Linked DNA regions of Homo sapiens. The main gene of each other region encodes a partner of the protein of the gene in region 2 in a complex. Each region holds a gene or a part of one and is shown on either strand. Other genes may lie near its edges. The genes, in order: TIMM22, AGK and TIMM29. A codon is read from its position in the direction of its gene.

The links.
Region 1: AGK (region 2) and TIMM22 share a complex: the UniProt entries of both Homo sapiens proteins name them as parts of the TIM22 complex.
Region 3: the proteins of AGK (region 2) and TIMM29 are in contact, whole or in part, in a cryo-EM structure (PDB 7CGP), measured with the Homo sapiens proteins. Residues at the interface, in NP_060708.1 of Homo sapiens: His33, Asn36, Arg39, Arg40, Cys43, Gln44, Gln47, Asn51, Lys82, Pro86, His89, Leu90; in NP_612367.1 of Homo sapiens: Tyr145 (codon at 1,403), Gln146 (codon at 1,400), Cys149 (codon at 1,391), Arg150 (codon at 1,388), Tyr151 (codon at 1,385), Leu152 (codon at 1,382), Gln153 (codon at 1,379), Arg155 (codon at 1,373).

What each region holds. Positions count from the first base shown.
Region 1 is NC_000017.11:997,153-1,005,998, reverse strand, and holds the end of TIMM22 (mitochondrial import inner membrane translocase subunit Tim22), read right to left. Parts: coding exon 8,619-8,846; intron 7,221-8,618; coding exon 7,024-7,220; intron 6,488-7,023; coding exon 6,415-6,487; intron 4,988-6,414; coding exon 4,911-4,987; 3' UTR 2,328-4,910; downstream 1-2,327. UniProt on the Homo sapiens protein: Essential core component of the TIM22 complex, a complex that mediates the import and insertion of multi-pass transmembrane proteins into the mitochondrial inner membrane. In the TIM22 complex, it constitutes the voltage-activated and signal-gated channel.
Region 2 is NC_000007.14:141,542,437-141,554,409, reverse strand, and holds the start of AGK (acylglycerol kinase, mitochondrial isoform 1 precursor), read right to left. Parts: upstream 3,001-11,973; 5' UTR 2,976-3,000; exon of another isoform or gene 2,792-2,975; intron 2,727-2,791; exon of another isoform or gene 1-2,726. UniProt on the Homo sapiens protein: Lipid kinase that can phosphorylate both monoacylglycerol and diacylglycerol to form lysophosphatidic acid (LPA) and phosphatidic acid (PA), respectively. Does not phosphorylate sphingosine. Phosphorylates ceramide.
Region 3 is NC_000019.10:10,923,588-10,930,754, reverse strand, and holds TIMM29 (mitochondrial import inner membrane translocase subunit Tim29), read right to left. Parts: upstream 1,945-7,167; 5' UTR 1,933-1,944; coding exon 1,839-1,932; intron 1,742-1,838; coding exon 1,053-1,741; 3' UTR 501-1,052; downstream 1-500. Other genes in the region: protein YIPF2, read left to right, coding at 2,345-2,375, 2,796-2,956, 3,039-3,125, 4,982-5,069, 6,563-6,679, 6,756-6,922, 7,078-7,167. UniProt on the Homo sapiens protein: Component of the TIM22 complex, a complex that mediates the import and insertion of multi-pass transmembrane proteins into the mitochondrial inner membrane.

The DNA.
Region 1 (8,846 bases), on a different chromosome or scaffold from region 2:
AGAAAACTCCCAAACCCAGCACTCCAGACTCGAGGGAAGCCAGCTTCCAAGAACTGGAATGCGTACGTCTTTTGTGCCACCTTGTACAAAGCCGGCTGCCCAGCCCCAGCCTCACCACCGCATCCCACCTCCTGCCCTCCATACCTCTAGTTGTGTCTGATGCTCCGTGCTGTTCGGGAATTGTTTTATGTACACTTGTCAGGCAGAAAAGGTAGTGACCGGCCCGGCGTGGGCACACAGACAGCCCGCTTTGTTCTTTCATTTCCTCCAGCACTTTCTTTCCGCCTGAGTCCAGCCCAAGGCCTTTTATTTTGCGCTGTGTAACTGCTGCCAGCTTCTCTCTTGGCCCTGCTCCCAGATGGCGGTCTCCTGGCAGCCTCCCCTCAGTCTTCCTCCACCCGCTCTTCCTTCCCAGCCTGCCTGCATGCATGTGCACCCTTGGTCTTCGCTCCATCGCCTTGAAAGCTCTGAAGAGGCCCTGGGTTGCCGCGGCAGCAGTGGTCTGTTTGATGCTGCCGTTTGCCGCTGCCGGCCCCTCCTCAGACTCCGCCTTTGGGAGCACACCTGCTTTGCCTTGCTGCCTGTGCAAATGTTGGACAAGCAGACACACTCACACTCGTCCCCAGCTTAGCACAGAGCTGGAGCGCCCATTTCTGGAATTTTCCGTTTGGGAATCTCCACTTCTGGGGTTTACCTGTTCGGCCTCCTGTCTATCAGTGAGGCATCTCTGACTGTTTCTTCTACTGCTTTTCAGTTCCCTTCCCTGCTGTTCTATTTCCTTTGAGTGTAAAGACTCACAGGTGACCTGCTATCGAGATAGCCAGAGGGTCAGGAGAGAATGGGGGAGGAGGCGGTCAGGCTGCTGAGGAAACACCACAGGCTGAACGGGGGAGGAATGCACATGCCACGCTGGGTGTCCCGGGTCGCGGGGAGGCAGCTCAGCTCTTAGGAGCAAGTTGTGGGGGCTTTTCAAGAGGGGCCAGGCTTCCTGGAGGGTGACTGATGTGGCCGAAGCAGGTGTCCAGGCAGGTAGGCTGCAGCCAGGAGCTCCCTGGCACCGCAGGACCTCGTGGTACTCTTGCCTTAGATTTTACACACACTCCACAGCCAAGCACTGCCACGGTCCTCCAGGACCTGGGAAGCAAAGGCACAGGCCCACGGTGGCCAGCCATTGTGGTGCCGCCCCAGCTTCTGGATACAGCCTTTTGGGTAAACACTGGGAACTCCAGAAGTTGTGGGGAGAGTGGGGAATCAGACAGCCGCCTCTAGGGGCTGGGTTCTGCTGGGGCCTCCTTGTTGGTGCTGTAGGCACCCGCCAGGGAGCAGGGACCCGACTTGCAGACGCATTGCCCGGTACTAGGAAGGAGTGAGGTGTGTTCCCACCGTACACTTCCCACACGAGCTGCGGCTGCCAGCCTCGGGCCATCAGCCTAGGAGAGCAGATGCAGCTCCAGGGGCTCGACTTATAGCCAGTTACAGCTCCCCGGCTCTTCTGTGTGGCAGAGCGTCGTTTCCGGGCCCTCAGGGCTGGGGAGCTCAGTTCCCATTGCTTGTGCTCAGGGCTGAGTCTTAAAGAAGGGTTTGCCGGCCCTAACGCTGCAGCGCGTGCGCGGTGAGAGGCCCTTTTTGAGCCTGTTTACTCCTGTGGCCTTGGGCAGAACAGTAAATACTCTGTGCACGGAGGAAAGACATGCCCAAGAGGAAGGAAGTACTGACCATCGGCTGCCTGTGAGCAGCTTAGCAAGGAGCCCTTGCTCCCTGGGAAAGGCGGTGAACTTGAGTCTAAAGATGCAGTGCCTGGCCCTTCCTAAGGTCCCTGCCTGGCATCCGAGTGTCGGTGTGTGGCACAGAAGGCTCCTGCTTGCTTCCAAAGTGATGGACAGGAAGGGGCAGAGTGAGTCACGGCCCAGACTGGGCACCTTCGCGTCTCAGCCTCAGGGAGCCCCACAGCCCCAAGCTCGCTGAGGCAACGTGAGAACAGGCTATGGGAAGGCTGCAAAGGCTGAGAAATGCAAAGGCTCATATTTATAAATCCCACCCCCAGAGTGGGGAGGGTCAGGTGCCAGACCTGGACTAAACTGCACCAAGGAAACACCCAGCAGGGTCTCCTGTGAGCCGGGGACCATGCAGCCCGAAACCTCCAGTCACTGCGCCCGGCAGGAGTCAGGAGCCAGGGACTGTGCAGCCTGGAACCTCCAGTCACTGTGCCCAGCAGGGTGGGCTGTGCCCAGCAGGAGTCAGGCTAAGAAACGCCAGGTCTGCCTGTTCTTGCTGGGCAATGGCTGATGGCTGCCAGTTTCTGCTGATACACAGGTAGGATGGGACCCTTCATGAATATCTGACTTTAATAAGTTGGTAAGGATATATTTTTTTGTCTATGTTCTGTTTCAACTTATGTAGATTATTATAAATTGATGTAAACCACGTGAGAGGAAAATGTTAATAAAAAATGCAAAGCCCCATCATTTGCACAAAACTCAGCCCTGTGGTGTGGATGTTTGTGTTCGCGGTGGTCCAGGGAAGCCACCAATGTAAATATTTAACTCTTCCAGCTGCATCCAGATGTGAGTTTCCAGGAATCTGTTTACCTAGTTCACTCCCCTTGAGCCTCCCTGTGGCCCACGGGGGCTGGGGCAGAGCTGCGGGGAGGTGGGCTGGAGCCCTCTCCTTGCTCTTCACAAAGGCCTCCGGATCAGCCAGCATCCAGGCTGCTTCTGGCTCACCTTTGCCATGTGCTGCTACAGTACAAATGTCCCACCTGGCCATCGGTGTGCCTTGAAAGTGGCATGAAGTTGTCCACTGAACAGGAAGCGTCTTCTTTTATGTAAACGCTTCTCTACGCTTTCCTTCAAAGTGGCATATCTTTGAGGCAGCCTTTTGGTCTAATCTGCTTGTCAGAGAAGCTGGGTCTCCGAGGGCCCACCCTCCCTTTGAGAGAGTCAGTGGCGTGAATATTGGCTCCCACCAGCCGAAGCAACTGGACACTGAGTTTATTCTGAAGATCAGGAACAGATGTCTCTGAAAATTGCTGTTTGGTTTATGAGCTCATACTGGCTCCCCAGCCATCGAAAACAGGAAACTATTCATCTCTCGAGTGAATAGGCAGCGTGGACAATGCCTCGCTTACTGAACCGATGGGTACTGACAGCCCTGGCGCTCATCTTTTCCAAGGCTGTTGTGAGGGCAGCATCTCTTGTATTTGGTCCCACGTGCTAGACTGAAAGATGGAAGATCCCAGGCATCCTAGGACTTTGACAGGTACCAGGTGGGAATGTCTGCCCTTGCTTCAGAGTGCTTGTAGGTGTCCTATATTTAGGGACAGCAGAGGAAACAATTTGTTCTGAGCTCTAGGGAACGCTCCAACTGGCCTAGCAGTGATGAAGCCTCCTAGCTGTGAGACTGGGAGGGGCGTTATATAGAATTCACTGTAAAAGGACATGAGCCCTGAGCAGGAACTCACATTCATTCCAAGAAAATGGCAAACATGACCCAAGGAAGGTGTTACCAGCTGGGTTTGACATCATCACTCATGTACAAACACTCGGGCCTCCAGGCCATGTACACTGAGTGTGAACGCTGGTTAAGAGTGTGTGGGCCAGAAGACAGGGCAGATGAGGAAGAAGGCAAAAAAGGAAAGGATAGAGGAATTACCGTATTATAGGAAAAAGGAGACTCATCACCACTGGCTGAAGGTGCCCAGCACTGTGTGGCCCCCACCAAGCGACCTGCCTGTGCCCCACCCAAGAGCAAAGGCCTGACTCCAGCAGTGTCATCCCCCCACAGAGCACCAGGGTAAAGCAGCACCAGTGCTGAAGCCCAACTGTAGACGGATTTTTTTTTTTTTTTTTTTAATATCCATGGCACACAACTAGGCCAAGAAAAATACCACAAGGTCAAGTCGAAAACACGACATGTTAAAACACTTCCTTGACCCTGGAGAACGAGGATGGTGGTGAACAGCCCCTCAGCGACGTCTGATCTTGGCCAGTAGCTGCTGTGACCGAGTCACCAAGATGACCACAGCAGGACCCTTCACATGTGGCCTCAAGCTCGGCCAGGTCCAGCAGTCACGTCGTGAAGGCAGTGTGTGCCTCTCGGCCGGCACAGGAGGGGCCCATCGAGTTCATGGATGGGATTTCACTGCATCCCAGGAAAAGGCTGGGCTGGGCTTCTTGAGGCAGGCCCTGGCAGATGTAATGAGCTTGGTGAGGATGACACAGTCCTCTAACAACCCTGCCTCAGCGCCCCATCCCCCGCTTCCCTGGGAGCTTTCTCATTCTTTCCCTTCAGATGTTATCTTTGGGCCACCCGGCACTATTTTTGGAATAGGGAATTTGAAAATAAAATACAAATAAACCAACCTTTTGAACTGTAAGGTGTGTGGCGGTGGGGGAGGGGAGTGTATTTTTAAAAAAAAAACAAGGATGACAGAACACAAAACAAGTGAGATAATTGGTTGGACGGCATCAGTCCGCCTTGCCCTGCCCTGGTATTCGAGACGGATAGTTGCATGGAGTTCCAAGGTAGAACAGCTTCCTGAGTGCCTGCAGAGACACTGTCACCTCTGTGCCCACAACACCAAACAACCTAGAGGGCCAGCTGTGGTCAGGCCTGAAGCTTTGTGGAGCTGAATTCCTATATGTCAACATCCTGTCTCCCGATCTGCTGTGAGAGAATCTGGCACGGGACGTCCTCTGTGAAGGCTGGCTGGAGTCCAGGAGCAGCAAAGTGTGGCTACCCCAAAGGCTGGAGGCAGAGAAGCCAGGCAGCTCCCTCAGAATACCAACGACATGAGGGAAAATGAATGTCTTCAGGCCCTGAAGCAAGGCCCTGGTGTGGTACAGAAACTGTCCTCCAGAGAGCAGCCCGGATCCGGGGCTGGCATCATCCTTCCCTGCAGGCAATTACTCTCACCGGAGGTAATAATCAATCGCAGCAGAGAAAGCAGCAAAACCTCCACAACCAATGGCCCCAGCCTTTAAGCCAGCTGTCAAACAAACAGAAAGAACATGACCTGTGGTGACAGCTGCTGGGTCACGAGGCACTCACGGAAAGTTGGCACACCCTCAGTGTCATGAAATGAGCTTAAGCACTGTAAGTCATTCAAACGATCATAGCTCTGGAAGACATCAATGAAGCAGTGTATATGATCTAATCCAGTGCGCTTTATCTAACTACATTTGTTTAGCTTTTCTCCTTCAAAGGGTATTTCTAGTCTTAGGGAAATAGCCCCTCGCAGGCAGGAAACTGGTTGAGAGAAGCAGCCCTCGGAATCAAATGAAAGCATATGGCCTTGACCCTGATTTGTTTATGGAATACATTCCTGGGAAGGTGATCAAAGCAGTACTGGAGACAGCAGAGCTTCTCAAAGAGGCCCTGGTGAAGCTGAACAATGGGACGACCGGCGGAGAAGTCAGTCCGTCATCATAAATGGTGCTTGAGGAGCAAAACCAGGTTTCATGACAGCAAATCATCCTGTCTCTCAGAAGATGAGAAAACTGGCTTTTTGCTCTGGGTAAGTTAGGGCATGACAGATGGAAAGTGGCCCAGTGATAAAACACTGCTGCTTCTAGGAAAGTCAAGTCACCAAGGCCCTCCACCACGCTCTGAATGGACATGCCAACGGGGAGAAGAGGCAGCAAATTGGTTTTCTTTTTTTTTTTTTTTTTGCAGCTGATAATCTAATATTTCTAGAATATCTGTACTTAGCATTCAATGGGTAGAAATCAGAATCCCCAAGGGCAGAAAGATATTACCATTATAATTTATATCTAAAATTAAAAGACAATTGTCTAGAATTACTGAGAAAAATGTTGGCCACACGTGGTGGCTCATGCCTGTAATCCCAGCACTTTGGGAGGCTGAGGCAGGCAGATCACGAGGTCAGGAGTTCGAGACCAGGTGAAATTGATCTCTACTAAAAAAATAAAAATTAGCTGAGCATGGTGGCGGGTGCCTGTAATCCCAGCTACCTGGGAAGCTGAGGCAGGGGAATCGCTTGAACCCAGGAGGTGGAGGTTGCAGTGAGCTGACATCGTGCCACTGCACTCCAGCCTGGGCGACAGAGTGAGATTCGGTCTCTTTAAAAAAAAAAAAGTTGTTACAACGGACGGGGGTGCTACTTGCATCTCGTGGGTAGAGGCCAGGGATACTGCTCAACGTCTTAGAATGCACAAAACAGACCCAATCCCGACAAAGATTCGTCTGGTCGAAATGTCAGTAGTGCCAACGATGGGAAACCCTCATCTAGATCCTACAAGTTTCCAAAACCGAGTTACCACAGAAACAAACATGATTTATTTGTCAGAGGGAAGAAGATCAAGTGTCCCTGGAACACTCGTGTGTTTGGAAATGACAACCTCAGCACGTTGTCCAAGGCCACAAAGAAAAAGCATTCGAGAGCCGTTTACTAACCTCTGAAACCAATAGCTCCTCCCGTGATGCAGCCACTGATGACACTGTTCTTCCAGTCTGATGTTCCCCGGTACTGTGGGCAGGGAAGTACACGTTAGAGCCAAAGAAACAAGCCAAGGCAGACCATTAAGGAGGAATACACAGGGTTGCTCGTTAGCTCATTCAGTCCCTACCCAAAGGAAACCTAATCTTTCTTGAAAATATAGTTCCTAAGTATACAGCGTGTATATATATATATATATATATATATATATATATATAGTATGCGTTCATAGATGCTTCCTGCAGGTGGCACCAGAGTGCTGAAACCAAGCCCAGCATTTGGAATGTAATCAAAATTTCTTCAAGGGGCTCTCCAATAAGTCTCGTTTAAAATCATTAGCTAACTTCTAGCCTACAAAAAGTAAAAAATAATGCAAGCCCATACTGTAAACACACACAAAGTCTGCCACAGGGACTATTTTATGGAAGTTCAACCTAGAATGTATCTGATGCTTCTGATTTGCTTTCTAGTAACAACTTTCAAATGACTTTTAAAGAGCAATTTCTCTTTAAAAGTAATGAAATGGTGGCCCCAGCAAGGATTTCTTAGAAGGCAGAGACACTTACAGATTCTATCAAACACTCAGTACAAGAAAACATGGCTCCCACAATGGCGAAATTTTTGGCATAGGACATTCCTCTCTGCCCCATGTCTTTCAGCACTTCTTTTGCAGTCGGTGTACGGTAAGGATCCTTAGGGTCAAAGCCCACGTTGGTATCGATGCCAGCGGTAAACACCCCAAATGCACCTCCTAAGACAAATCCTAGAAGCAAACACAGAGATGAAGGTGTCTTTGGCATGTTTTCTGCATTACTCTATTGGGATCATCCTGGAAGGGACCATGCTTTTGGATGACCACCGGTGCAGAGGACACCCCCCTCTTGCCACTCAAACTCTCCACTTGCCTGGAGACTTGCAATCCAGGGTCTATGTTACTGACATCATCTTCTCCGTCTCTAAGATTTCTTCCTCCTGTCATTCCCTAACATTTCTCAAGATTCCATCTTTAACCCTCTATTCTCTCTACATTCTCTCATATGTAAACCAGCCACCCTCAACTTCAGCTATCAACTTTGCAAATCACTCTCTTGGCCACTGTGACATTCACAGTAATGCTTTACTGAGCACATGCCAGTATGCCACAGCCTCATTCATTCTTCACAATAATCCAGTGAGACAGATGCTATTAGCCTCTCCTTTCTATAAACTGAGGCTCAGAGAGGTTAAGCAACTTCTCCCAAGGCCACACAGCTACCTAATGGCAAATCCCACACTGCTGCCACATCTGTCCTTCCTGAGCCGGCTGGACATGTCCAGATGGATGCCCTCTCATGACCTCATGGTCAATATGAGTTTAATAAAATCATGGGCACCTCCCCTTCAACTTAAGGGAAAAACAGAAGGACAAGTGCAGACTTCGTCTCTCCTTGCTCGGGGCTGTCTAGTCACAATGGTCTTTCAGTTTTTCAAACCTCAAACAACTGCTGCCCTAGAGTCGTCTGCATGTGCATTTCCATATGTCTGCATCCTTCCTCTGCAGTGTTCCTGCTCAACATTCTTCTCCACATAGTATAATACAGGCCCCATGAAGACCAGGCTCTTGTCTCTTTCACCTGGCACGTGATATTGCTTAGGAACAATTTGTTGAAAGAATTATTTAAGAGAATGAATTTAAGGGAATGAACGGATGAATGAAGTCACCCACGTAATAACTTTTTGTTGTTGTTTTTGAGACGGAGTCTCGCTCTGTCGCCCAGGCTGGAGAGCAGTGGCACATCTCGGCTCACTGCAAGCTCCGCCTCCTGGGTTCAAGCGATTCTCCTGCCTCAACCTCCCGAATAGCTGGGACTACAGGCGCCCACCACCACGTCCAGCTAATTTTTTGTATTTTTAGTAGAGACGGGGTTTCACCGTGTTAGCCAGGATGTCATGTAATAACTTTCAGGCCCCAACCACAGCACCGATTCTCTAACCCAATTTTCATCAGGAAAGCCGGCCTGAGGGGGCAGGAGAGGTGACGCCCGATTCACGAACGAGGCGAGGGTGTGGTCAAGGTCAAGGCCCGCAGTCCCTCGCCTCCCAGGCGCGTGGTCTTCTCGGCAGAGATCCCCACTGCCGTCCAGGCCCTCAGCCTCCCAAGGGTCCCATCGCCCGGCCTCACCTCCCACGCAGGCCAGCGCAGCCTTGAAAGCGCAGCTTTCCATCGCCTTCTCGATCATCTTCTGCTCCTCACTCTTGGCTGGACTTGGGATCCCGCCCAGGCTCCCAGGCTCCAGGAGCCGGGGCTGACGCTTGTCACCCACCAGGTACTGCAGGAGCAGGCTGTACTGCAGCGGAGCTTCGGCGGAACCCGCTGTCTCAGGGGCCGAGCCTCCGGCATTGGGGGCGG
Region 2 (11,973 bases):
CAAACATGAGTATAAATTTAAAAAGAAAACCAATACAATTAAACAAAAACAATTTTTTTTTTTTTTTTTTTAGACAGGGTCTCACTCTGTCACCTAGGATGGAGTCCAGTGGCACAATCATAGCTCACTATAACTTCTGGGCCCAAACAAATCTCCTGCCTCAGCCTCCCAAGTAGCTGGGACCACAGGCACATACCACTACACTTGGCTAATTTTTTTCTTTCCTTTTTTTGTTAGAGACAAGGTCTCACTATGTTGCCCAGGCTGGTCTCAAACTCCTGGCCTCAAGCAATCCTCCCGCCTTGGCCATCCAAATTGCTGGGATTACAGACGTGAGCCACTGCACCTGGCTCAAAAACGAAATTTTAAAGTAGATCCCTCTAGGTTGTGGAATGGTGGGTGATGTTTATTTTTAAAATTGCAATGTACTTTCTAAGTTTTTGAAAATGAACTTATTTTCTAGATAAACAAAAATTTAAGCAAAATTTTTTTATGACTATCTGTTAGTGAGGTATATAGACCAAGAAAAAAAAAACTGTTTCCACTTAAAAGTCCAGTTCTTTTATGACTCCCTTTAAATCCCATTGGTTAAAATTCCTCTCAAGGGTAGAAACATCCTTATCAAAAGCAGCAGTGAAGCCAGTGCCAGGGAGACCATCTTCCTGTGAATCCCATACACCGTCAGGCTGACACATGATTCCAAAGGCCCAACTAATTCTTGAACTCCTCTCCATCTGGCCCTAAATCACTCCTTCATTCAAGAGCCCTTTAATAAACACCTATATGGTAGGCTCTGTGCTGGGGGTGAGGGCAGAGAAGAATGGGTCTCATGCGTTCTCTCAAGTGCTCACAACTGTCAAACCCACAATGCTAACACAATTATACAATTATGATTGCAGTACAGTGGGATAAATGTCGAGGAGTCAGCACAAGGCTTTGTGAGAGTCTGCAAGAATGAACCTAACCTGGTCTAGGGCTGAGGGGGTGGTGCACAGTCAATGAAGTCTTCCCTGAGCCTTGAATAATGAGGAGGAAATCACTAAAGTAACGAAGGAGTTTTGTGGATGCTATTGTCTGAATGCTGTGTTCCCCAAAAATGGTGATGTGGAAGCCCTATCCCCATTGAGATGGTATTAGGAGATAGAGCCTTCGGGAGATAATTGGGTCATAAGAGTGGCTCCCATGAAAGGGATTAGTGTCCTTATGAGACTAGACACTACAGAGATGGTCTCTCTGCATTGTGAGGATACAGCAAGAAGACAGATCTCTACAAACCGAGGAAGAGAGCTATCACCATGCACTCAACCATGCTGGCACCTTAACTTTGGACTTCCAGCCTCCGGAACTGTGAGAATTAAATTTCTGTTGTTTAAGCCACCCAGTTTTTGCTATTTTTTTTTTACAGTAGCCCAAACTGAGAGTGTACAAAGGCATAAAAGACAGTAAAGTGTGTTGAGAGAAACATACGTAGATAGTTGAGGGGAGAATTAGGTTCATGGCTGAGACTGGAAAAAGGGGGTATGATCTAACAGTAATACGCTGGGGAGAATTTAGCAAGGCCTATTTGTTCTGATTCTTCTCTGTGTACCTGTGTCTTCAAAGATAAGGGCATTCCTTTCCTCGATCCTATACTTACAGGATGAGCACCTCTCACTGAAGGGTCTTATACAGAAGAAGGTCAAACAATTCTTTTATGGCCTGCTTCAGGGGAGAAAAGTGGGAAGACACAAAGTGACTTTCCTGCTTCAGTTGTTTCCTCTAATGCCAACGAGTCATATTTTGCGGCAGTGTGTCCTGAATCTCATCAACAGCGGAGTAAAAATTGGAGTGTCTAGAACAGGGGTTCTCAACCTTTAGTGCAGAACTTGTTAAAAACACAGAATCCTGGGAACTGCCCCTTCCCGCAAGAGTCTCATTTGTTCTGGAATTAAGCTGTCATCTTCACTTGTTAACAAGTACTCCCATGTTGGTTGCAATGGAGGTCACCACTATACCAGACTTTGAGAAACAGTGGTTTAGAGATAAAGGATTGAAGACCAGGTGGGATTAGAAAAGACCTTGAACCCACACTAAGGACTTTGGCTATTATTTTGAAGACAATGAAAAACCTTTAATGGGCTTTAAGCAGGTGAGTGATATAATCATATTTGAACTGTTAAAAGACCACTTTATAGCAGAATGAAAAATGAACTGGAAGAAGCTAAAATTAAAGCTAAAGAGAACCATTAGGAAGTTATTGCCATAATCTGTAGGCTCCTAAAAGAACAAACCAAGATAAAGGATGGATTTGGAAAGCTTTAGAAAGTAGAAATTGGCAGCAGTTGGTGGTCCATTGACTGTAGTAAGTGAGAGAGGAGGAACCAAGCCAGGTTTTTGTGCTTGGGTGACTGGTTGAATAGTGATTTCAGTCATTTAGATTTGAGTGGTAGGTTTGTGGAGAAAAGTAGTGCGGTTTAGGAGATACTGAATTTGACACGCCTGTGGAGTATCCAGGTGGAAATGTTTTTCTTACTAGATAGTGAACCCCTCATGGGCAAGTTCGTCTATCCATCTGCAGCACCAGAACCTAGTAAAGCGCCAGAATGAATGAACCAACCAACCCATCAATGGATCTGATACTATTGGCCCCATTTTGCAAAGGGCTATGCTGAAGCCCAAGGGACGAAGTGAGGGGGGTCCACAAGTTAGCGACAGCTCTGGGACTCGAACCCAGGACAGCTGACTCCCGCCGTGACCACGGGATCCGCGCGAGGCCCTCCCCTGCCGCGCCGGCCAGGCCCGCACCCCCTACCCTCAAGCCGCGCCGCCGCCTGCACCCACGACCCCTGATGCTTGGGTCCCCGCGGCTCTCGGCCCAGCGCGACTCCAGAGGCTCCGCCCAGCGCCCCGGGCCCCCATCCCGACTCCCACCCCGCTCGCGCGCTCAGTCCCAGCGACCCGCACTGCGCTCCCCGCCTGGGCGCCGCTGCACTCACCACGGCTGGTCCAGCTCGCGGCTCTGCCTTTCCTGTGTGCTCCCTCCAGATTCCCCGGCTCGTTCAAGGGAAACCGCTGCCGCCGCCCTCGGGTTCCGCCGCGGGGCTGCGAGCGCGCGCGGGCCAGTTCGGGCCGGGGGCGGGAACCGGCTCGGATGCTCAGGGACGGTGGGGGTGGCAGGGCCCACCGGCTTGAGGCTGCCTTTCCCGGCGTTCCCTCGTTTATTGGCTCACTCTTCCTTTCATCCATCCATCCTTTGCGCAACAATATTTGATGGGAAGCCTGCCAAGGTAACACTGTTTTAGCACCTGGAACTAAGTCGGAAAATAAATTAACTAAATGAACAAGGCCATTGGAGATGGTGCTCCGTGCCACGAAGAAAATGAAACGAGGTGATGGAAGGCAGTGCGGGAAGGGGGAGAACTGTGTGAAATTAGGCGGCCTGCGCTAGGCCTTCTGAGTAAGGGGCCATTGGTCTGAGACCTGGATGTCAAGAAGGAGCAGCTGAAGCAAAGATCCAGGGGAGAGAGCCTGGAGAGGGAAGGGCCCGTGCAAAAGCTGAAAAGCCTGGGGCACTCTGGCGAGTTGCAGGCCAGTGTGGGTGAGACAGAGAGAGCTAAGGAGACAGGCCAAGCGAGGAAGCTGGAGAGGTGGAGACAGGCCACGGCGGCCAGGAGTTTGGACATGACATTAAACAGGGCGAGAAGACATTGCGGGGGTGCAATCAGGGGCTGGTGGGACTGGTTTCCATTTCACACAGCTCTCTGGCCACAGGTGCTTGATTGGATTCTAGAGAACAAGAGAGCAACGGAGAAGCTAGGCCAATGCCAACCTCCAGACAGTTTACATTCTGTACTCGCCCACCAGATTGGTGTGGGGACAAAGCCAGGTCCTTCTTCTTTCCAGCATTCAGTCTGCCAACTTTTTTTTTTTTTTAGACAGGGTCTCACTCTGTGGCTCAGGCGCTAGTGCAGTGGTGCAATCTCAGCTCACTGCAGCCTCTGCTTCCCGGGTTCAAGCAATTCTTGTGCCTCAGCCTCCCGAGTAACTGGGATTACAGGTGTGTGCCACCAGGCCCAGCTAAATTTTTTTGTATTTTTAGTAAAGACGGGGGTTTTGTCACGTTGGCCAGGCTGGTCTCGAACTCCTGACCTCAAGCGATCTGCCCGCCTTGGCCTCCCAAAGTGCTACGATTATAGGCATGAGCCATCGCACCCGGCCAGTCAACCAACATTTGAGTGTGCACTAGGCCCTGCATCAGGCACTGGGGGTATGCTCAGGTACAAGGCCCTTCATGGTTCCTGCCCCATGGAGCTTGCTATCTAGTCTGCACATTTCCTACGTGTAGACATGCATCCTACCTATGTCTCCCTAGGTGAATGCTTCAAAAAAAAAAGGCCGGGGCGGGGACCTTCAATGAGGCTATGGTGCAGTAAACATATTCCTTATGCCAGGGTGCACCAATCCATTGGGCCACACTGTTTAGTAGCAAGAAATTTCTAGCCCTCTCTCCTGAGTCTCCATCTGTAAACTAGGGGACTGAGAACATTACTATTAAAAAAAAACCCTTCTAGCTCTAAAATGTTGTCATAGGGTATGGAAGACCATTATTTTCAGTTCCTCTTTTCCAACTATCTAAAGCGTTTGTGTTTGGAAATAAGCTTCTGAACTGCTCACCTGCAGGCTAGAAAAATCTGAGACTTGATTTTGATGTTCCAAGGGTCAGACTCAGCGTATGCTTTAGGGCTTCAGCATGAAAGTGGTTCCCCAAATAAGAAAAGGTCAGCTTTGATGAAGGATGAAGAAGGATGGAAATATAGGAGATTAAGGGAATCTGAATACACACCTGCAGGCAGATGTGTAGGTTGGAGTTTTGGAGACCTATACCAATTCTACTCTCTTCCAAATACCATTTTACTAGGATGCATTCAGATTCCAGAATAATCAGGCACAAGCTCTAGCCAGCCCTGAATGGGTTCCTGCAGCCCAACAGAAACCTGACACTCTGACTTAGGCAGCCCCAAGAACTTCTGTTAGGCTGGGCGCAGTGGCTCAAGCCTGTAATCCCAGCACTTTGGGAGGCCAAGATGGGTGGATTGCCTAAGGTCAGGAGTTTGAGACCAGCCTGGCCAATATGGTGAAACTGTCTCTACTAAAAGTACAAAAATTAGCCAAGCGTGGTGGCAGGTGTCTGTAATCCCAGCTACATGGGAGGCTGAGACAAGAGAATTGCTTGAACCTGGGAGGCGGAGGTTACAGTGAGCCGATATCGCGCCATTGCGCTCTAGCCTGGGCAAGAAGAGCAAAACTACCTCTCAAAAAACAAAACAAAACAAAACAAAACTCTTAGTCAAGGATTAACACAAGTTCCCTCTCATAGTCAAAGAGAGTCCTGGAGAGCTTCCTTTGCTGATCCGTGTTAAGGATCTACGATGCCAGAGAAGACTCAGGTCTGACACTCTGGCCCTTAGAGGCCTGGAACAGTGCCTCGGGCACAGTCCCTGAGGCTCAATGGCACATTCATGCCACAGAGAGGACCAAAGACAGATCCAAATGCACACAGCCAGAGAGAAGGGCTTGGCTTATGTACTTCCTTTTCCATGTTCTTTGTTCACTATCACTAACAGCTGAGCGAGGTTCCCAAGGAGCTATTTGGAATTTGCCTGGGTCTTCAGCTCTTGCCTGGGATCGTCAGAGAAGAACATTTTGCACTGTCAAGGATAGGGACTTGTGTCTCTTTTCACAACTAACACATTGCCACATATAATACTATACTTTATGCATATTGAAATAAGTGACACATTGAAAGTATGGGCCCCAGTTGCTTACAAAATGAATTTATGTTCCCTTGAGGACGAATGTACTGACTGACATCTAGTAGCTCCCAGGAATGGAAGAGTCTTACAACTCAAGATCTCTAGCATTTTCCAAATATGGTGGCTGACCATCCCAGTAGCTTCTCATTAGTCCAGAACCAATCCTGAGGTAACATTCTCTTGGCTCAGAATCTGTTTGGTTTTGTTTGTCTGTTTTTTGAGACAGAGTTTCGCTCTTGTCACCCAGGCCTGAATGCAATGGCGTGATCTCAGCTCACTGCAACCTCCACCTCCTGGGTTCAACCAATTCTCCTGCCTCAGCCTCCCAAGTAGCTGGGATTACAGGAGCCTACCACCACGCCTGGCTAATTTTTGTATTTTTAGTAGAGATGGGGTTTCACCATGTTGGCCAGGCTGGTGTTGAATTCCTGACCTCAGGTGATCCGCCTGTCTCAGCCTCCCAAAGTGCTGGGATTACAGGCATGAGCCACCGTGCCTGGTCTGGGCTCAGAATCCGTTATTAAGGATGTTACAGGGAAATGACCTTGGCCTAGAAATAGGGTGAGAAGAAACTAAGACAGGAGTGCCATGGTCATTCAACAAGAAAGAGTATTTCACTCTCCAGTCAGATTGCCCCCTACTGTGGAAGAGTGTTCAAGAACATAAGACGAGAGAAAGAATCAAGGTTTAAGGTAGTCTCACATTTCAATTTTTTGCTCATTGACAAGATATATAGAGATATATAATTTTTTATATGTGTATAAAAAATTCTCATACTTGCAACCTCCCTCTCAGTTGTGTACATCAACTACATACAGCTAGAACAGCAATGATGGCATGCTGAATTGCTGTCAATTGATTACCTAGAAAGTGGGCACTGTGTGACTCTCACCTCTCAGTTATCCCCTCCCTGCCTTTACCACCTCCCTGAAGCCCCTGAAGTTGGTCAGCTTCACTCAACCTGGTGGTATAATAAAATCCATTGCAGGGGTAGGATTTGGAGTGGTTGGTGAACCCACCACTCTAGAGTCTGAAGCTTACAGGTGTAAAACAAAAAGGAAGGAAGGAAGACTGGTGGAATAAATAAACCAAAGGTAAGTGGAGCCCCCTTCACCATTCTTAGCTTCTTTCGTAACTGTTATGTTGTATCATTAAAGTGTATTGTACATTTTATCTCCTTACCTAACATCCATTGCCCCTTTCTTCTTTCCTAACAGGAATTAAATTTTGTTCAGACATCCACTCTTCACCTTCCCAGCCCCTGTTTGCCTGTAACTACAAAGCAGGTGACTAGATAACCCCATCCCCTTTGCCAAGGGTTAGTTTACAGTCACTTTAGGTAATCACAGTCATTCCTCTTCCATCTCCAATGATTAGATTAGGAATAGATCATGTCACTCGATTTAGAACAGTCTTAAAAGGAAGTCTGCTGAGAGATCTCTAGGAAAGGTTTCCTTCTTAAAAGGGAGAATTCAAGAAAGAAATGGCAATCAACATTAAAAACATTAGGCTAGGTGGGCCGGGTGCAGTGGCTCACACCTGTAATCCCAGCACTTTGGGAGGCCAAGGCAGGAGTATCACCTGAGGTCAGGAGTTTAAGGCCAGCCTAGCCAACATGGTGAAACCCCATTTCTACTGAAAATACAAAAATTAGCTGGGCACAGGGGTGCATGCCTGTAATCCCAGCCACCTGGAGGCTGAGGCAGGAGAATCACCAGAACCTGGGAGGCGGAGGCTGCAGTAAGCCAAGGTCACGCCACTGCACTCCAGCCTGGGTGACAGAGTGAGATTCCATCTCAAAAAAAAAAAAAAAAAAAAAAAAAAATTAGGCTAGGCGAAATAGGCCAGTCACAAAAGACCACATAGTGTATGACTCCACTTACATGAAACCACCAGAAGTGGCAGATGCATGAAAATGGAACATGGATTAGAGGTTGCCTAGGACTGCAGTTGGGGGGAGGTTGGGGAGAAGTGGGAAATGATTGCTAATGGGTATGGGATTTATTTTTAGGGAGATGAAAATGTTCTAAAATTGATGGTGGTGGTTGTAGGACAACTATGAATCTACTAAAACTCAGTGAAACATAAAGTTTAAGTAGGAAAATTGTATGGTATGTGAATTATATCTCCATAAAGCTGTTTTTTAAAAAAGAGAAAGAGATGGTCGCACTTTTCTCCTATAGGATCATATATGTGTATGTAATGCCTGAAACTGCTATAGTCATTCTTCATCCATGAAGGGAGCCAGCCCTAGGGCAAAGCCAACTCACAGAGAATGTCAGAGGAAAAAGATAAAGAGCCCAGGTCCTCAATGACATCACGGAACCAAATGGTTGTACTATGTCTGGAGTTTGCCCAAACTCTGGGACATCCTATTATGTGAAATAATAAATTCCCTTATTGTTTAGGGGGGAGTCAGGGTTTTCTGTTCCCTGGAGCCATGAGCCCCAACTTGATAAACTGCAAGCCATAGGCTATATTGGTGGATAGGAAACACAACGAGGACAGTGATTTAAAAGAAAAAAAAAAATGATGGCAAGGTTTTTTTGTGTGATTTTTGTTGTTGTTGTTGTTGTTTATGGAGTCTTGCTCTGTCGCCCAGCCTGGAGTGCAGTGGCATGATCTCTGCTCACTGCAACCTCCACCTCCCGGGTTCAAGTGATTCTCCTGCCTCAGCCTCCTGAGCAGCTGGGACTACAGGCATGGGCCACCAAGTCCAGCTAATTTTTGTATTTTAGTAGAGACTGGTTTCACCATATTGGCCAGGCTGCTCTCGAACTCCCGACCTTGTGATTCATCTGCCCCAGCCTCCCAAAGTGCTGGGATTACAGGTGTGAGCCACAACACTGGCCTATGGCAAGGTTTTAAGGGTGAAAATCGATGACAGAAGAAAGCAAGTTGACATCAATGGGATGCTTAACCTTTGGTTTTTCCTAAAATCATCCTCCAGTCATTTCCCTGGACCTTGGACCAGTGCTATGCTCTTTTTCTGTAGATTCATTAACACTAAAATAGAGTTAAAAGTTCAAAAAAAGATATAGTGTCCTTATGACCATTAGTAACCTTACTATGTAGCATCGCCAATGAAACCTGCTTGTGGGAACAGATGCTTCCCAGGGTGAGTACTTTGATCATGGAAAATTATGTACAAATTCTTTTAAGACTTATCTTGGTTTATTTGCTCATTTTTTGCATGTAGATACTTCTTTAGACTACTTTGTTTCCCCTAAGGAAAAAAATATGAAATGGTGTTCTTGTGGTATTTATGCTTAAAATCCTTTCCTTATTATGACCTTTAATATCCACTGAATCTATTGCTACCAGATTGGAAACATGTAAATGAGGCCTTTCAAGAAACCAACAGGTTCCTAGGAGAGAGAATATGTTTTCACATTATTGCATGAGGTTTTATAAGAACCCTCTATGCTGCCCATTGTCACCCATGATCTATATGGGCCCTGCATTTTCCTGAATGTGACTTCTCTTGTTAATGTGTCTTCTTGTCATCCTTTGCCACTTATTCCTCCTGACTCCAGCTAGGCCCTGGTCGGCACTTCCCAGCTGCCTGTTTAATATGGCAGTGAGTAGGAACAAAGGTAGGGCCCACATTGATTGTATTGAGCCAGGTCTCCAACATTGTTTTGCAAATTTTGGTTTTCAGGAGTAACCCAAATTCTAAGTACCCTGGAAGAAGAAAAGGGAAATTCTACCTGGAATGAATGTTAAGTTTTTTACTTTGGTAATTCATTTTTTCATTTCCAGGAGCATAGAGACCAGCAGTTTTTTTTTTAATTTTTTTTTTTTTTTTTTTTTTTTTTTTTAGGAAACCAAATTTCAAACAAAATAGTAATTATGGTAGTGTCATCCTAATAAGTTACCATATAATAAAAACTCTGAATTTTCTTATTTTTTAAACTACGAATTGCTCTAAGTATAGGGCATTGGAGAACAACAGGTACACACCATCATTATAAGACTTTTTTGGAATTTTGGTTCTGGCAAGGTAGTAGACCTGAAAAGTCTACCTATTCCAATACCTAGAAATTCGGGTTAAAACATAACAAGAGGATTCATAGTGCATAACTGAACTTGCCGTAAAGGAAGCTTCATCCCATGGGGCCAGAAAATAAGCGGGACCTGAAAGCTAAAATAGAAATATATGAGCCGATGATGTCATTGCCTGGCTTGAGGGTTCCGGCTCAACAATCTAGAAGCTATGTCTCAGCACAAGACATGAGAACTTGGGTCCTCCAAAGTCAGGGAGCTGGAAGTAAAACCTCTGACTACAATCACTAGGGAAAAAAATTTTTAAAAATCTACTCACCAATATAGGAAGATGACAAGGAAGTGGTGTGTCCCAGCCTGAGCTCTAGGTGGAAAAAGAGTCCCCAAATAAGTGATAACACCAAATCTGTGCCTAGGGTGGGTTTTCTGATTTGAATACACGTTATCTCAGTGGTACAGAAGTCTCAAAACTGGGAAAGTTAATATAAAAATTAGTCTCATAGTGATAATAGCTTTGAGTGTCTGACAGAAGCAAACACAAAGGCCTCTGGGGGAATGCTCCCATACCAGGCCAAAAAGGATTTTCCTATTTTTTAAAAAACCTTTCTAAAGATGTCACAATTTTAAAAAATCACAAAATACATGAAAAAATGATTTACTTTGAGTAAGTGAGGGAAAAAAAACCCATAGGAGAATTAGAGCCCCACAAACTTAAAATAATTGAATTATAGTTTAAAATAAAATAGTTCAAAATGATCAAAATCATTACTAAAGAAAAAAATTTTAATCTTAAGAAGAATACAAGGCACAAAGAAAAACAAAATAGCAAATTTTTAAAAGAACTCAGTATAACACCCAGAAATTTTTAAAATGCATAGTTACTAAAATTAAAAATTCAGTGATAAGTTAAAGAGGAGATTAAATACAGCTGATGAGAAAATTATTGAACTAGAAGACAGATGTGAGGATATTAACCAAATACAGCAAGAAGAGAAAAAAGAGAGGCAAAATATAAATAAGAGTTAAGGTTCTGGAAGACAGAATGAAATCCAATAGATGTCTAATAGGAGCTCCAGAATGAGAGAGTAGAGAGATGGGAAGAGGCAGTATTCAAAATATAACAGCAGGCCGGGTGCAGTGGCTCATGCCTGTAATCCCAGCACTTTGGAAAGCTGAGGCAGGCAGATCACTCAAGATCAGGAGTTCGAGACCAGCCTGGCCAAACATGGTGAAACCCCATCACTATTAAAAAAATACAAAAATTAGCTGGGCGTGGTGGCAGGTGCCTGTGATCCCAAATACTCAGGAGGCTGAGGCAGGAGAATCCCTTGAACCTGGGAGGCAGAGGTTGCAGTAAGCTGAGATCAGGCCTCTGCACTCCAGCCTGGGTGACAGAGCAAGACTCTGTCTCAAAACAAACAAACAAACCCAGCAGATACATCAGACTGAAACTGCAGAACATTAAAGGCAAATTTTACAGGGAAGCAAAGGAAATTAAATGGAAACATATAAATGCATGTGACCTTACAAAAGGGAAACACGAGTGGAGGTTGCCGTTCTTGGTTCTGCCACTTGCTGCTGGGCTGTGGCTGTGATTCTGACTTGCCCCTCTGTAATTCATTTCATACCTCCTTACCTCAGGCCAGCCCTCAGCTGGCTAGGCTTTTTGGTTTGTTTGCTTGTTTGTTTGTTTAGTAGAGACAGGGTTTCACCATGTTGGCCAGACCAGTCTCGAACTCCTGGCCTCAAGTGATCTGCCTCCTCGGCCTCCCTCAAGTGATTCCCCCGTCTTGGCCTCCCAAAGTGCTGGGATTACAGGTGTGAGCCACTGCACCTGGTCTCAAGCTAGGCTTTTTGTTTTGGTTTGTTTTTGCAGAGGGTAAGGGCGATCTGATCTTCATTCCTGGAGGATTGAGTTCTGGGTCCTGCCTGGTTGGAAATGTAGTCGTCTTTCATTAACACTCCCACTGGATATGGCAATATAAAGAGGTGTCCAGTGTGTTCTTCTGGGTTTCATGCATTCATCTTCCTGCCCTCATTGCACAGCAGCAACTTTATTTCCCCTTGAAAATTGTGGTGAATTGTCCCTGATGAGAAAAAATCTTTTGCTTAGGGCCTCTGGTGACTTGCTTCCCTCCCAACTTTAGCAGGCTTAACTATAAGCTCAGTTGGTAGG
Region 3 (7,167 bases), on a different chromosome or scaffold from region 2:
CTGGTGTTGAACTCCTAAGCTCAAATGATTTGCCTGCTTTACCCTTCCAAATATTTTAGTTTTTGAGAAAGCTCTCACTATTTTACCTAAACTGGTCTTGAACTCCTGATCTCAAGCAATCCTCCTACCTCAGCCTTCCAAAGAGCTGGGAATGGCAAAAATGTTACTTATCAAAATGAAAGGCCAGGTGTGGTGGTTCACTCCTATAATCCCAGCACTTTGGAAATGCGAGGCAGGTGGATCACCTGAGGTCAGGAGTTCAAGACCAGCCTGGCCAATATGGTGAAACCCCATCTCTATTAAAAATACAACAATTTGCCAGGCATGTTGGCACAGGCCTGTAATCCCAGCTACTGAGGAGGCTGAGGCAGGAGAATCACTTGAACCTGGGAGGCAGAGGTTGCAGTGAGCCGAGATTGCACCACTGCACTCCAGCAGGCAAAACAGAGCAAGACCCTGTCTCAAAAAAAAAAAAAAAAAAAACGAGAGAGAATAGGTCATAGAATAAAAACATTTCAGCTCAAATTTTATTTAGTTAATTACTATTATTATTCTTTTTTGTAGCATCGGAGTCTTGCTATGTCACTCTAGCTGGCCTCAAACTCCTGGCCTCAAGCGATTCTCTTGCCTCAGTTTGCAAACTGCTGGGATTACAGACATCACCATGCCAGGCCACAACCCAAACTTGAAAAAGAAAATCTAAGTGGCCTTAGAAGAGTTTGCAAGTCAGCTGACCAATGTGGTACCTCCTTAAGGAGGGCCTCTGAGGCCCGATGAAAAAGGCTTATATAAAAGGCTCATGACCAGCTCTGCCAGTGATGAACATGTGTCAAGTCGTTCTGCTGTCCCCAACTCCCGGACCCAGGTGGCTCTGAATTAGCTTCAGCTAATAAAGAACAAAGACGGGGGGCAGAAAGGCTCCCCAAACTTGTGCAAATCCAGTGAGAAAACACTTTGCACATCATCTGTCTCAGCTGTTCTGCAGGTGAGGCACACTCAGAACTGCACCACCCCAGGCAAGCAGTTTGCCAGGACTCGGGGGCCTCAGGGTTTCATCTCGGGGCCTCCGCCTGCACCAGCGAGTGGGCCTGGCTCAGGGCGAGCCTGTCCTTCTTCTCCTTCTGCAAGACCTGCTCCTCCCACAGCGCCTGGTCCACCTGATCGTCGGTGAGCACGACAGGCTTGTACTTCTCATCGAAGAGCCGCTCGTTGGTCTCGGAATGCAGCTGCTGGGGCCCGACCACCCGCAAATGCGCCGGCAGGTGCAGGAATTCGTCGTCGTTGATGTCGCAGTCGCGCATCCAGGCCCCCAGCACCCACCAGCGACCCACGAAGCCCACGTCCAGGACCCGGCCGGGGAAGTCGGTCCAGCGGGGCTGCAGGTAGCGGCAACGCGCCTGGTAGAGGCTGGCCTGGGCGTCGAAGGGCGCCTCGTACACCAGCGAGCAGAGCCCCAGGTTGACGTAGCGCAGGCGGCCACGGCCCCGCAGCCAGAGCAGCCTCTGCACGAAGGCTTCGGACTCGCGGTTGCGGGTGGCCGGCGCCAGCAGCAGGAGGGTCCCCGACGCCTCCAGCAGCGCCTCCTCGAAGGCACCCTCGCTGGGCGCCAGCGTGAAGCAGGCCGCCGCGCCGCCCAGCAGACCCACATACACAGCGGCGCGCCCCGGCCGGGCCCTAGCCTCCGCCGAAGCGTCCCTGCAGGCCTCGGCGTAGTCCCGGAGCAGCGCGCGGGCCCAGGACCCTGAGGGGAGAGGAGCGCGGTAAGAGTGATCCGGCCGCGGCGGCCACCCACCCTGTCGCGGCGGCCACCCACCCTGCCGCCTTCCGCCGCTACTCACCCAGCCGCGCCCACACTCCCGGCTTCGCCACTACCGCGTCGCCCGCCTCTGCGCGGCGCCGGGACCAAAATCTCCTCAGAGCCGCCGCGGCCATCCTCTTCCGTCTTGGGGGTCCTTGCTCCGGGAAGAAACTCCTGATACCCGACGTTAAGAGCCCGGGAGTCTCTTCTGCGCAAGCGCCAACTTTACCGGAAGTGGCTTCCCAACGGGAGAGGATAGAAAGAGGACAGGCGCCGGATGTTGCTGTCAGGTCTGAGTCGGTTGGAGTCTGACGGGTAGGCGAGACGCGCAGGCGCAGAGAGCCCCAGCCACGCCGGCCCAGGTGGCCTCAGGTGAGGGGGGGCGGAGCGCACCTGTGGGGACGGGACGACGAGTTCAAGCCTCCGTGGGTGCAGTTGGTCGCCAGGTAGGGCTGGGGGCCGAGGGACCGGCTCGGGGGCGGGGGGGAAGTGTGCCTGACCGGTCTCTGTCCTCAGCGAGGGATGCGGAGACGCCCCTGAACGACCATGGCATCGGCCGACGAGCTGACCTTCCATGGTGAGTGCGGCCCCGACGTGGCCGGATCTCCCACTCCCGCCCCGGGCCAGAACCTCCCCCCGATACGGCTTCCAATTTCTCTACCCCGAAGCCTAGGCGGCTGTGAACCCTGACCCAGGAGTGAGACCCATCTCTGACTCGAACCCCGCCCCCGCCCTGAACTCAGACCTCAAACCCGAGCCTCTCGTCCCCAGACCCTGACCCCATCCCAGCGTCAACCCTAAGTTGCAGTTCCACTTTAGGAGGAAGGGAACAGATGTCCTCCGGATGCCTCCAAACTGAGGAAGTTGGGCCCCACCTTGGGGGAGATCAATGGCTCAGCAGAGCCTCCGCCCCCAGATGAGCATCGGTTTAGCTTGGGCCCAGTCGAGTTCTTTCCACCCCTCAAACGTGCGTGTGTCCCATATACCTCCTCCACAGAATTCGAGGAGGCCACTAATCTTCTGGCTGACACCCCAGATGCAGCCACCACCAGCAGAAGCGATCAGCTGACCCCACAAGGGCACGTGGCTGTGGCCGTGGGCTCAGGTGGCAGCTATGGAGCCGAGGATGAGGTGGAGGAGGAGAGTGACAAGGCCGCGGTGAGTCCCTGTGTCCTGCCTCCTTGCAGCCCCCAGCTGACCCAGGCTCTCCGGGCAGGCACTGAATGCCCGCAATGTGCAGCTCCTGCAGGAGCAGCAGCAGCAGCAGCAGCCGGGATTCTGGACCTTCAGCTACTATCAGAGCTTCTTTGACGTGGACACCTCACAGGTCAGGCTGGGGAGGCAGGTGGGATGGGGCTCAGAGTTATGCTCAGGGTTCAGCCACTCTTCCCCTGGGCAGGGTGCTGGTGATGGTGGGTGCTGGTGAACGAACTGTGGTGCTCTCAAAGGGTTATGGTGGGACTGGTTATGGATCGGGACTATGGGAACACAGGGGACACACACAATCTGGTGGGTTAGAGAAAGGCCTCCTGGGGGAGGTGAGGAATTGGCTGAGACCTAAAGGAGACAGAAGGCTTCCCTGGGGAATAGGGTAGGGAAGCAGGAGTATATGTTCCAGGCACAGGGAACAGCATATGCAGAAGACCAAAGATGGACTGGGCGCAGTGGCTCCTGCCTGTAATCCCAGCACTTAAGGGGGCCGAGGTGGGCAGATAACCTGAGGAGTTCAAGACCAGCCTGGCTAACATGGGGAAACCCCGTCTCTACCAAAAATACAAAAACTGCCGGGTGCGGGGTGGCTCATGCCTGTAATCCCAGCACTTTGAGAGGCCTGGGTGGGTGGATCACCTGAGGTCAGGAGTTTGAGACCAGCCTGGCCAAACATGGTGAAACCCCGTCTCTACTAAAAATACAACAAAATTAGCCGGGCTTTGTGGTGGGCGCCTGTAATCCCAGCTACTCTGGAGGCTGAGGCAGGAGAATCGCTTGAATCCGCCAGGCGGAGGTTGCAGTGAGCCAAGATCGTGCCAGTGCACTCCAGCCTGGGCAAAAAGAATGAGACTCTGTCTCAAAAATAAAATAAGATAAATAAAATAAAATTAAATAAAAAATAAAATAAAATAGAAAAATTAGCCAAGTGCAGTGGTCGGCGCCTGTAATCCTAGCACTTTGGGATGCCGAGGCGGTGGATCACTTGAGGTCAGGAGTTGGAGACCAGCCTGGCCAACGCGGTGAAACCCCATCTCTACTAAAAATACAAAAATTAGCCAGGCATGGTGGCACACACCTGTAGTCCCAGCTACTCAGGAGTCTGAGGCTCGAGAATCACTTGAACCTGGGAGGCGGAGGTGGTAGTGAGCCAAGATCGTGCCACTGCACTCCAGCCTGAACAGAGTGAGACTCTGTCTCAAAAAGAAAAAGGGGGTGCTGAGGCCGGGTGCGGTGGCTCACGCCTGTAATCCCAGCACTTTGGGAGGCCAAGGTGGGAGGATCATGAGGTCAGGAGATCGAGACCATCCTGGCTAACACGGTGAAACCCCATCTCTACTAAAAATACAAAAAATTAGCCGGGGGTGGTGGTGGGCGCCTGTAGTCCCTGCTCTTTGGGAGGCTGAGGCAGGAGAATGGTGTGAACCCAGGAGGCGGAGCTTGCAGTGAGCCGAGATGGCACCACTGCACTCCAGCCTGGGTGACAGAGCGAGACTCCGTCTCAAAACAAAAAAAAAAAGAGGGAAAAAAAAGAGGGGGCTGGGAACGGTGGCTCACGCCTGTAATCCCAGTACTTTGGGAGGCCGAGGTGGGTGGATTACCTGAGGTCAGGAGTTCGAGACCAGCCTGGCCAACATGGTGAAATCCCGTCTCTATTAAAAATACAACTATTAGCCAGGCGTGGTGGCACACGCCTGTAATCCCAGCTACTCGGGTGGCTGAGGTAGGAGAATTGCTTGAGCTCGGGAGGCAGAGGTTGCAGTGAGCCGAGATCATGCCACTACTCCATCCAGCCTGGCCGACAGAGCAAGACTCTGTCTCAAAAAAAAAAAAAAAAAAAAAGAGAGGGAAAGGCTGAGTTCTTTCAGGTGGGGCATGGAAAGAGAAGGGTGGAGGTCAGCAGGGAAGGAGCCTCTCAGGACAAGGGAGAAGCTCCTGGCAGACTTCCATCCTTGACCTTGGCCTTGCCCCCAGGTCCTGGACCGGATCAAAGGCTCACTGCTGCCCCGGCCTGGCCACAACTTTGTGCGGCACCATCTGCGGAATCGGCCGGATCTGTATGGTGAGTGAGGTTGTGCATTTGGTTCCTTGATGGATCACTCAACAAGTGTGGCCTGAGTTGCAGATGCCAGTGTATAGCTGCGGACAAATCAGTCACTCAGACAGTGTGACTTACCTGCTGTTCAGGGAGACAGAGACATGAAGGACTGCAGAGGGTGGCGGGTAGAGAGCAGCAGAGCAGACAGGAGGAGTGGCCCTGCAGTTCTGCAGGGTGCAGCAGGGCAGGCCTCCCTGAGGAGGGTGAGGGAATGAGCCTTGTTGGCAACAGGAGGGGTGGGGGAGACCTAGGAAAAGAGGCTTCCAGAAACGACGTAAGCTTCATGGCAGGAACTTGCATGAACTGCAGGGCGGCATTACCACTGGAGCGAGTGAGCTGCAGGGAGGTCACAGGCGAGGGGACAGATCACACAAGCCTCCCATGCTGTGGCAAGAAGAGATCTTTTTTTTTTTTTTTTGAGACAGAGTCTCACTCTGTCACCCAGGCTGGAGTGCAGTGATGTGATCTCAGCTCACTGCAATCTTCCCCTCCCGCATTCAAGCGATTCTCCTGCTTCAGCCTCCTGAGTGGCTGGGATTACAGGCACGTGCCACCATGCCCGGCTGATTTTTATATTTTTATTAGGGACGGAGTTTCACCGTGTTAGCCAGGCTGGTCTCAAACTCCTGACCTCAGGTGATCCACCCGCCTCGGCCTCCTAAGTGCTGGAATTACAGGTGTGAGTCACTGTTATCTGGCCGAGAATGGATCTTTAAGTGTTTTCGGGGTCCCTCTCGCCATCATGAGTGGCGAGGGCGGAAGCCAGGAGGCTGGGGTGGAGGCGGCCACATGGTGGGGACTGTGGATGTGGAGAGTGGCACTGGATTCTGGAACGTGCTGGGGAAGTAGAAGAGACTGGCTTTGTGGCTAGATAGGTGGGGGTGGGGGGAGTGGGAGGTTAGGAGCGGAGGCAGGCTCTAGGGATTTCTGCCTGGACTAACGGGATGGATAGAGTTGCCACGTATCCACGGGACCAGCTTGGCAGTGAGGGCAGAGGGCAAGGGTGTGGATGAAGCCGGAGATGCCCACCCGGGAGCTTGAACTGGAGCCTGCAGTGCTCAGGGCAGAGCCCTGGGCTCTAGAGGAGGCATAAGGCCCTGGGCTTGAAGGAGGTCATACTATGGGTGAACGCAGACATGGAAGGGGCCAAGAACTGGGCCTGGCTGCTCCCCATGGCTGAAGGGGTCAGAGAGTCAAAGAGGAGGTGACAGGGGTTGAGGAATTGGCACCAATGAGGTGAGACACAGGCCAAGGGTGTGCAGTCCTGAGTGTTTCGGGGAGGGGGATGAACTGACAGCCAGCACTGGGCTCAGCCACCAGGAGGCCCCCGGTGTCCTGGTGAGTCAGGCAAGGTGCTTAGGAAGAGGCTGGGGTCTCAGCACAGCTCAGTCAGGATACATGTCTGCTTGTCCTGGGAGTGCAGGGCCCGGGACCCTGACTGTGCCCCCTACCCCCAGGCCCCTTCTGGATCTGTGCCACGTTGGCCTTTGTCCTGGCCGTCACTGGCAACCTGACGCTGGTGCTGGCCCAGAGGAGGGACCCCTCCATCCACTACAGCCCCCAGTTCCACAAGGGTAAGCAGACGGGCAGGCCCAATGCCTGGCAGGGCCCTGGGGTACAGGGGGTGACTGCTCACCTTGCCCCCCCCAGTGACCGTGGCAGGCATCAGCATCTACTGCTATGCGTGGCTGGTGCCCCTGGCCCTGTGGGGCTTCCTGCGGTGGCGCAAGGGTGTCCAGGAGCGCATGGGGCCCTACACCTTCCTGGAGACTGTGTGCATCTACGGCTACTCCCTCTTTGTCTTCATCCCCATGGTGGTGAGTGTGGCCTGGCGCGGAGTGGGTGGTGGCTGTGTGGGGACACTGGCATGGTCACCTGCCGCCTCATTCCCATGGTGGTGAGGGTGGCCTGGTGCAGAGTGGGTGGTGGCTGGGGGGACTGGCATGGTCACCTGCCGCCGTGTTGCTCCCAGGTCCTGTGGCTCATCCCTGTGCCTTGGCTGCAGTGGCTCTTTGGGGCGCTGGCCCTGGGCCTGTCAGCCGCCGGGCTGGTATTCACCCTC